2 linked regions of the Homo sapiens genome follow. The protein of the gene in region 2 purifies or fractionates together with the protein of the main gene of each other region. This does not show direct contact. Each region holds a gene or a part of one and is shown on either strand. Other genes may lie near its edges.

Evidence for each region.
Region 1: the proteins of SNX20 (region 2) and SIRT5 purify together in Homo sapiens (affinity purification with mass spectrometry; one large-scale study listed by BioGRID and IntAct). This does not show direct contact.

The regions. Positions count from the first base shown.
Region 1 is NC_000006.12:13,591,601-13,595,100, forward strand, and holds part of SIRT5 (NAD-dependent protein deacylase sirtuin-5, mitochondrial), read left to right. Parts: intron 1-68; coding exon 69-294; intron 295-3,500. UniProt on the Homo sapiens protein: NAD-dependent lysine demalonylase, desuccinylase and deglutarylase that specifically removes malonyl, succinyl and glutaryl groups on target proteins.
Region 2 is NC_000016.10:50,674,813-50,678,312, reverse strand, and holds part of SNX20 (sorting nexin-20), read left to right. Parts: intron 1-777; 5' UTR 778-786; coding exon 787-916; intron 917-2,391; coding exon 2,392-2,543; intron 2,544-3,500.

The DNA of each region.
Region 1 (3,500 bases), on a different chromosome or scaffold from region 2:
TGTGCCCCAGGGTTCAGCATCCTGGCTGTCTCTGCCTCCCTCACTCCTGCCTCCTCTCCCACTCCCAGGACCTGGCGACTCCCCTGGCCTTTGCCCACAACCCGTCCCGGGTGTGGGAGTTCTACCACTACCGGCGGGAGGTCATGGGGAGCAAGGAGCCCAACGCCGGGCACCGCGCCATAGCCGAGTGTGAGACCCGGCTGGGCAAGCAGGGCCGGCGAGTCGTGGTCATCACCCAGAACATCGATGAGCTGCACCGCAAGGCTGGCACCAAGAACCTTCTGGAGATCCATGGTGAGAGACCCCCAGCCTCCCATTCAGGGAACCAGCTTTAAAACACCTGTCCTGCTGTTTCAGCATCACCTCTGGTGCCTTCCCTCCCTCCCTGCTGGACATCCGTCCTGTCCTATAGGATGCTGTGGCATTTCCTTTGGGGACATGTTAGTGTCCCGTGGCACCTGGGCAGCTGCCTTTGGCCATGGGAGGAGCCCCTGACCCACTAACATTATTCACTTAGCAGTTCCTCCATCCTCGCTGCTCAGGGTGGTCTAAGAGCCAGCAACATTTGGCGTCCCCCAAGAACTTGTTAAAAATGCAGAATCTCAGGCCCCATAGGCCCCACTGAATCAGAATCTGCATTTTCCCATGAGCCCAGGTGGCTGGCGTGCTTTTTATACTGGAGGAACGCTGGGGTGCACAGCTGCGTGACCCTTTCCTCTGTGGAGGGGCACGGTACTGTGAGACAATGGCCTCAATGAGCTGAGGAATAAGAGGCCTGGCCCATTGGACAGCTGGGGCTTGAGCAGGAGCAGACTGCAGCATCTTGGGGTCTCCTGTCACTCCCCCTTCATCCTGGTGGGCACTCCCCACTGAGGCTGTGCTTCTGCCCCGCCCTGGAGCCTCAGAGAGCTGCCAGCTCAGTGCTGGACACTGCACCAAGCCCACCAAGCCTGTGATGTCGGTGGACCCCACTGAGGCTGTGCTTCTGCCCTGCCCTGGAGCCTCAGGGAGCTGCCAGCTCAGTGCTGGACACTGCACCAAACCCACCAAGCCTATGATGTCGGTGGAGTTTGTCTTGGGTCCCTCTGGGCTCCTTCCTCTGTCCTGGGTAACCCCTCACCCCTTCACTCTTGTCTTCTGGCTCCTCCCTTCTTTGCTGTCACCACAAATCTAAAACATCCACTTGTCCACAGTCATAATGGGCAAACTAGGGTTTCCCCCAAGGCCATTTGCATTTAAAGAGTCTGCATTCAAATCCAAGGAATGCATTTCTTATTTTTTAAGCATTTATTTCTCTTAATTTAATTTAATTTAATTTTTTTTTTTTTTTTAGCAATGGGGGTTTCACTCTTGCCCAGGCTGGGGTGCAGTAGCCTGATCATAGCTCATTGCAGCCTTGAACTCCTGGCCTCAAGGGATCCTCCCACCTCAGCCTCCAGAGTAGCTGGGACTACAGGCACATGCCACCATGCCCAGCTACTTTTTAAAATTTTTGTGGAGAGTGTCTCACCATGTTGTCCAGGCTGGTCTCAAACTCTTGGCCTCAAGCAGTCCTCCCTCCTCAGCCTCCTAAAGTTTTGGGATTACAGGCTTGAGCCACTGTGCCAGCCAAAAATGCATTTCTAAGTGTAGCATTTCCAGAAGCAGTGCACCAGTCGGGGGTGTTTGTTTTTGCGTGTGTGTGGTGAAGCTGCCTGCTTTTACTTAGATCACCCTGATAAGGAAAGCGAGGCACTACTCATTTCGACTGTGTCTGTCTTTTGTTCATCAGGAACAGCCAGCCACCTATTAACCGAGCATCTTTTTGGTACCTACATCTGCTGGGTCTGAGCCACTTTCCATGTGCCTCTGCTGATTTCCCTGCAGTGTCAGAATGTGGGCTATGTCATCAGCATAAAACCGAGATGACAATGCCTATCTTATAGAATTGTTGTCGGGATTAAATAAGATCATATATGTGTGTTAGTCAGGACTTTTTAAAATTTCAAACGATGAGAACTCTCTTCTAACTTAGGTTAAAAAAAATCAATGGCATCTTCAGTCTGATGAAGGGTTTTTTTTAAGATGCATCATGTTTTTAATGTGGCATTTAGAATATAATCTGCCTAAACCATGATATACTATTTTATTATCCCTTAGAATTATTCTATACTTAGAGAAAGAGCTTGTTAAAACTTAGACACGTTCTTTAGAAATTATATCTTTCCAGGCATACATAAAGTATGAGTATGATAAACTGGTCCAAATATTTCTCATTATCTAGCTCTTCTAAATGATTCTGAGTGACTCAGAGCACGGATGTCTGTGTTTTCCATGCAGTTTCATGCTCTGTGTCTCGGGAGATGGATGATGCAGCGTTTCCTGAGAGAATGCCCCTCTGTTATAGCTGGGATTCTCATCCAAGCTCCTGACACACCTTCCGCAAGTTCGCTATTGGGCCTGACATGTTCTTACCAAAAGGCATCAGTGGAAAGGCTGTAGACAACAGCCAAAACTTGCTTTCCTTCCTGAAGTGGCCCTTGAAGGGTTTGTTGGCGGAAGGATCCAGGGGCTGAATCTGCCCGGTCAGGCCACGGAGAATAACAACAAAGTCACCCCATTTTTCAGTGTTCTCCTTCAACAAGTCTGTGCAAGCATGATGATGATGTTACAGTCTCATCTGGCCAGTAGCAATTGTAGGACACATCTGAATTTCAGAGATGTGAAAATGGGGAAAAATGTCTATGCTAAAACTGACAAAGTAGGTTTATTGGCTCACAAAACTGAGGAGCCTAGTGGTGCAGCTTATGTCATCTTTCCTCCCGGCCCCTGTCCCCCTCCTTCTTTCAGCTTTGCTCACTCTTTGAGGTGGCCTCCCTTCTCTCTCTGCAATTGATCTGTCTCCACGCGCCAAGGGAGAGTGCCTCCGACGGCTCCAGCTCAGCCACCTGCTCAGAAAATAAACCTCTGGGTAGGCTTGCTTGGTCCACACGCCCACCCTTCTGACCAAACACGACTGCAGAGGGATGGACACCACATGGGGGCCGTGCGCAGCATGTGGCTGAGCTTGTATTTGGGATGTGACCCACAGCCCTATTGGCTCAGCATGCGAGAGAGCAGGGATGGTGCTCCCCAAGGAAGGACTGGTGGGCAGGACGGAGCAGCGCATGTCCACTAGGGTTGAAAGTGCTCTGCACGGCACCAGTTGCCTGGTACCCATTTCATAAACTGTGGCCACCATGATTGCTTCAGCTCAATAAGTGGTGGTTAGTATTAACAATTACTTTTTTCACTTATTAGTTGATTACTTATTTATTGAGGTGCTTTTGTATAAAAGATTCAAGCTTTCTGAAATCGAAGTTAAAATTTTGTAAACATATCCCACGCCATTGAACCTTTGTCAGTCATGTCAATAAATCACGCCCTTAGATTTAGGTTGAGCTCCCTCTACCCTATTGGCAACTTCTGCCCACTTGAACACCACTCCAAGGTCATCTGATGGCACATTAGTCATGGAGTTA
Region 2 (3,500 bases):
TAATAAGCTATCAGTTAATTTTGCTGATAGATAGATTATTGATTGATTGATCGATAGAAGATTCATACCAGTATCTACCTGCTCTGAACACTGACCTTTCTTTTTTTCTTTTTGAGATGGTCTTGTTCTGTCACCCAGACTGGAGTGCAGTGGCATCATCATAGCTCACTGCAGCCTCAGTCTCTTGGGCTTAAGGGATCCTCCTGTCTCAGCCTCCCAAGTAGCTGGGACCACAGGCGTGCATCCTGGATAATTTTTTTTTATTTTTTCTAGAGACGGGGTCTCACTACATTGGCCAGGCTGGTCTCAAATTCCTGGGCTCAAGTGATCCTTCTAACCCAGCCTCCCAAAGCGCTGGGATTACAGGCATGAGTGGCCATGTTCAACTTGAACACTGAGACTTCATTCGCATGTGTAACATAAAACTGAGTATCTAGACAAGCCAGCATCTTTCTTTCAAGTAATCACTAAAGCCAATACTTTTACTTGAAATCATCTCATTTAAAACTCTGAGCAATACGTAAGGATCACCTCAATAACATATGGATCATCGCAATAGGTGAAGGGTCTTCTCTGCCTTGGAGTAACCTGCCCAGCAAAGGGGCAGACCCAGATTTGGGATCTGGCAGCTGGGAGAGTGGGGAAGGTTGAGCCGTGGGGCCCTTGTCATTCCCTCTGCCTGCCAGGAGGGGGCATGACACAGCTCCTAGGCACCCCAGGAGCCACCGGGAACCCCAACTGGAGTGGGTCCTCACTGTTCTCTTTTTCCTCTGGCAGCCTTGGAGCATGGCAAGTCCAGAGCACCCTGGGAGCCCTGGCTGCATGGGACCCATAACCCAGTGCACGGCAAGGACCCAGCAGGAAGCACCAGCCACTGGCCCCGACCTCCCGCACCCAGGACCTGACGGGCACTTAGGTGGGCTTGAGGCTTGAGACTCGGTCTGGGGGAGAGGTCTGAAGACATTCAAAGTACAAATGTGGGTCACTTTGGGGGATGCAGCAAGAGGCCCGGGCAGCTCTTGTAACTTGGGTTATCCCAAAACAGACACTGAGACACAGATCTAGTGCAAGCTGTTTATCCGGGAGACGGTCCTAGGAGTCATGGCAGGGGAGTGGGAATGGAAGGAAAGGGCAAGAGGCCAGGGCAGGACATCAGTGAACAGATAGGCACGGTAGGTGGCTGAAGCTCAACCCCAGCGGGGGTCTTCTGGGAGACCCTGGAACATATCTCTGGGTTGTCCTATCCTAGGGGTGAGGAAGCCGGGCTGTTATCTACCAGTCCTGCCCTGCATAGGAGAAGGGACGCTCCTGGGCCTGCTGCTATGGCCCTAGAAAGCCCTCAGGGAAGCCAGTGGCATGTTCTGGAAAAGTGGGTGCCAAGAGGGCACGGTCCAGCCTGGGGCATGGACAGCATCTGCTGTAGTGCCATCTCCTGGAACAGATCTTTTCTTACAGTCCTTCGAGATGCCCTATTCAATACCTGCTCTGTTCCTGGCCCTATGCAGGGCACTGGAGAAACAGAAACAGGAAGAAATCAAACACTGCACTAGTCCTGAGGTTTGGTAGAGAAACAGATCAGTGAGAAACAGTTACACGTGCCACGAGAAATAAATAAATAAAATGAAAAACCTGTAGGAACAAGGTGGGAAGCTCTTACTCTAATGCCAAGGGGCATTTGCAGTGATGTGGGGGCTGGGTCTTGAAGGGTAGACTGGAAAAGGGCTGGGACCCATGCCCTTTGCAATAAAATGCACAATTATTTGTGCTTCTTAAGAACCTCAGAGTGGCGCAGGGCTCAAGTGGGGTTTAAGAAACACTGTGTTCGTTTTCCAGGCGTGGAAATAGAGGGTTGGATGCAAGGCAGAGCAGTGCACGTCCGAGAAGAGCCCGGCATGTGGGCAGTTAGATGAGAAGGTTAGGAAGGGCCAGCCCGCTGAGGCTGGAACATAACATCCTCCTCACTGCCTCCCCTGCCCACTGATGTGTGCTCAAGGAGTCGTGGCAACAGTCACGAAGTCAGGGCTGCAGGGAGCACAGAAACACACAAGCCACCGTCTCTGCTTGTCCAGAGCAGGGATTTCACCATGGCCAATCTACAGACCAGAAGTGGACGATGCAAAGTGCCCGCACCGCATTCCAAAGCTGTGAAACCACTTGGGGGTGATGGGCTATTTGGGATTGTCGGTGGTAGGGTGGATTCTGCCAGGCTGGGCACAGAGGTCTGTCTGATGCCCCAATTGGGCCTATAAATGGCGGGGTGGGAGAGAGGGATATTCAATACTCTTCAGGAGTTCTGATATGCCATCTCAGATAGACCCAGCCATCTCCCCAAGCCCATGCCTCGGAAGTGCACTGACAGGGTGCAGATCCTTAAGGGTGTTGTCCTTCCAGACACACACAGTGGCCTGAGCTCCAACTCCAGCATGACCACGCGGGAGCTTCAGCAGTACTGGCAGAACCAGAAATGCCGCTGGAAGCACGTCAAACTGCTCTTTGAGATCGCTTCAGCTCGCATCGAGGAGAGAAAAGTCTCTAAGTTTGTGGTAAGCAGAGATTGGGAAATGGTGGAGCCTCTTTCACTCTGCTTCCTTCCTGGCCCTGAATAAGTCTTGTAGAGCCTCAGGTTTCCCAACTATGAAATGGGTCAACACACTAACTCACAGCTTTCTTCTGGAGAAAATGGCCAAAGAGCAAGATTTCAGGCTCAGCACCTGCTAGGGTCTGTGAGGATTCGAACCATATAAGTCATATTTCTTGGTCCCAAGAAGGAAATAGCCCAGTTTAATCCCATCTTATCAGGTGTCAGTCACCTGTGTCCTTTCTTCACCAATTTTGCCATATCACTGTATCTGTTCTAATTATTATTACTTATTTTTTTCTTTAAATTGGATCACTTTTTAAAAACATGAAGCACATTTATTTCAAAGAGAAATACCTTAAATGGAAAACCAATATCACATGGCACAAAGCAAAAGTAACATACTAGAAAAGTCGATACAAGGAAAGTCAATACAAGGAAAGCTATGTGCTGTTATTAAATTCTAGCTGGTTACTGTGGCTTCGGGAAAGCCCTGTGCCTGGGAGCTGCTCCTCTCCCTGTTAGAATGGAATTTTAGCTTGTGTTAAGGGATGTTAAAGACTGCCTAAGAGCCACACTTCATCCTTCTCCTTCACTTACCTGGGACCGGGATAAATAACATAGCTACCACTGAATGCCAATGGCATGCCGGGCACAGCTCCATGTGGTTTCAGTGCATTAACTCATTTAATCCTCACTGGGTGAGGTAGGCACTATGCCTATCCTTGTTTTATGAATGAGAAAAGTGAGACTCGGAGAGGTTAAATTACTCATCTAAAACCACACAGCTAGACCATGGTAGGGCTATAATTACAACCCATGCAATCTGGCTCTGGAGTCAGATGCATGGGTTATAATTGCCCTTAATATATAATTGCCCGTAATCAGGATTCTCTTGAAAGATGATTGAAAAGGATTGATT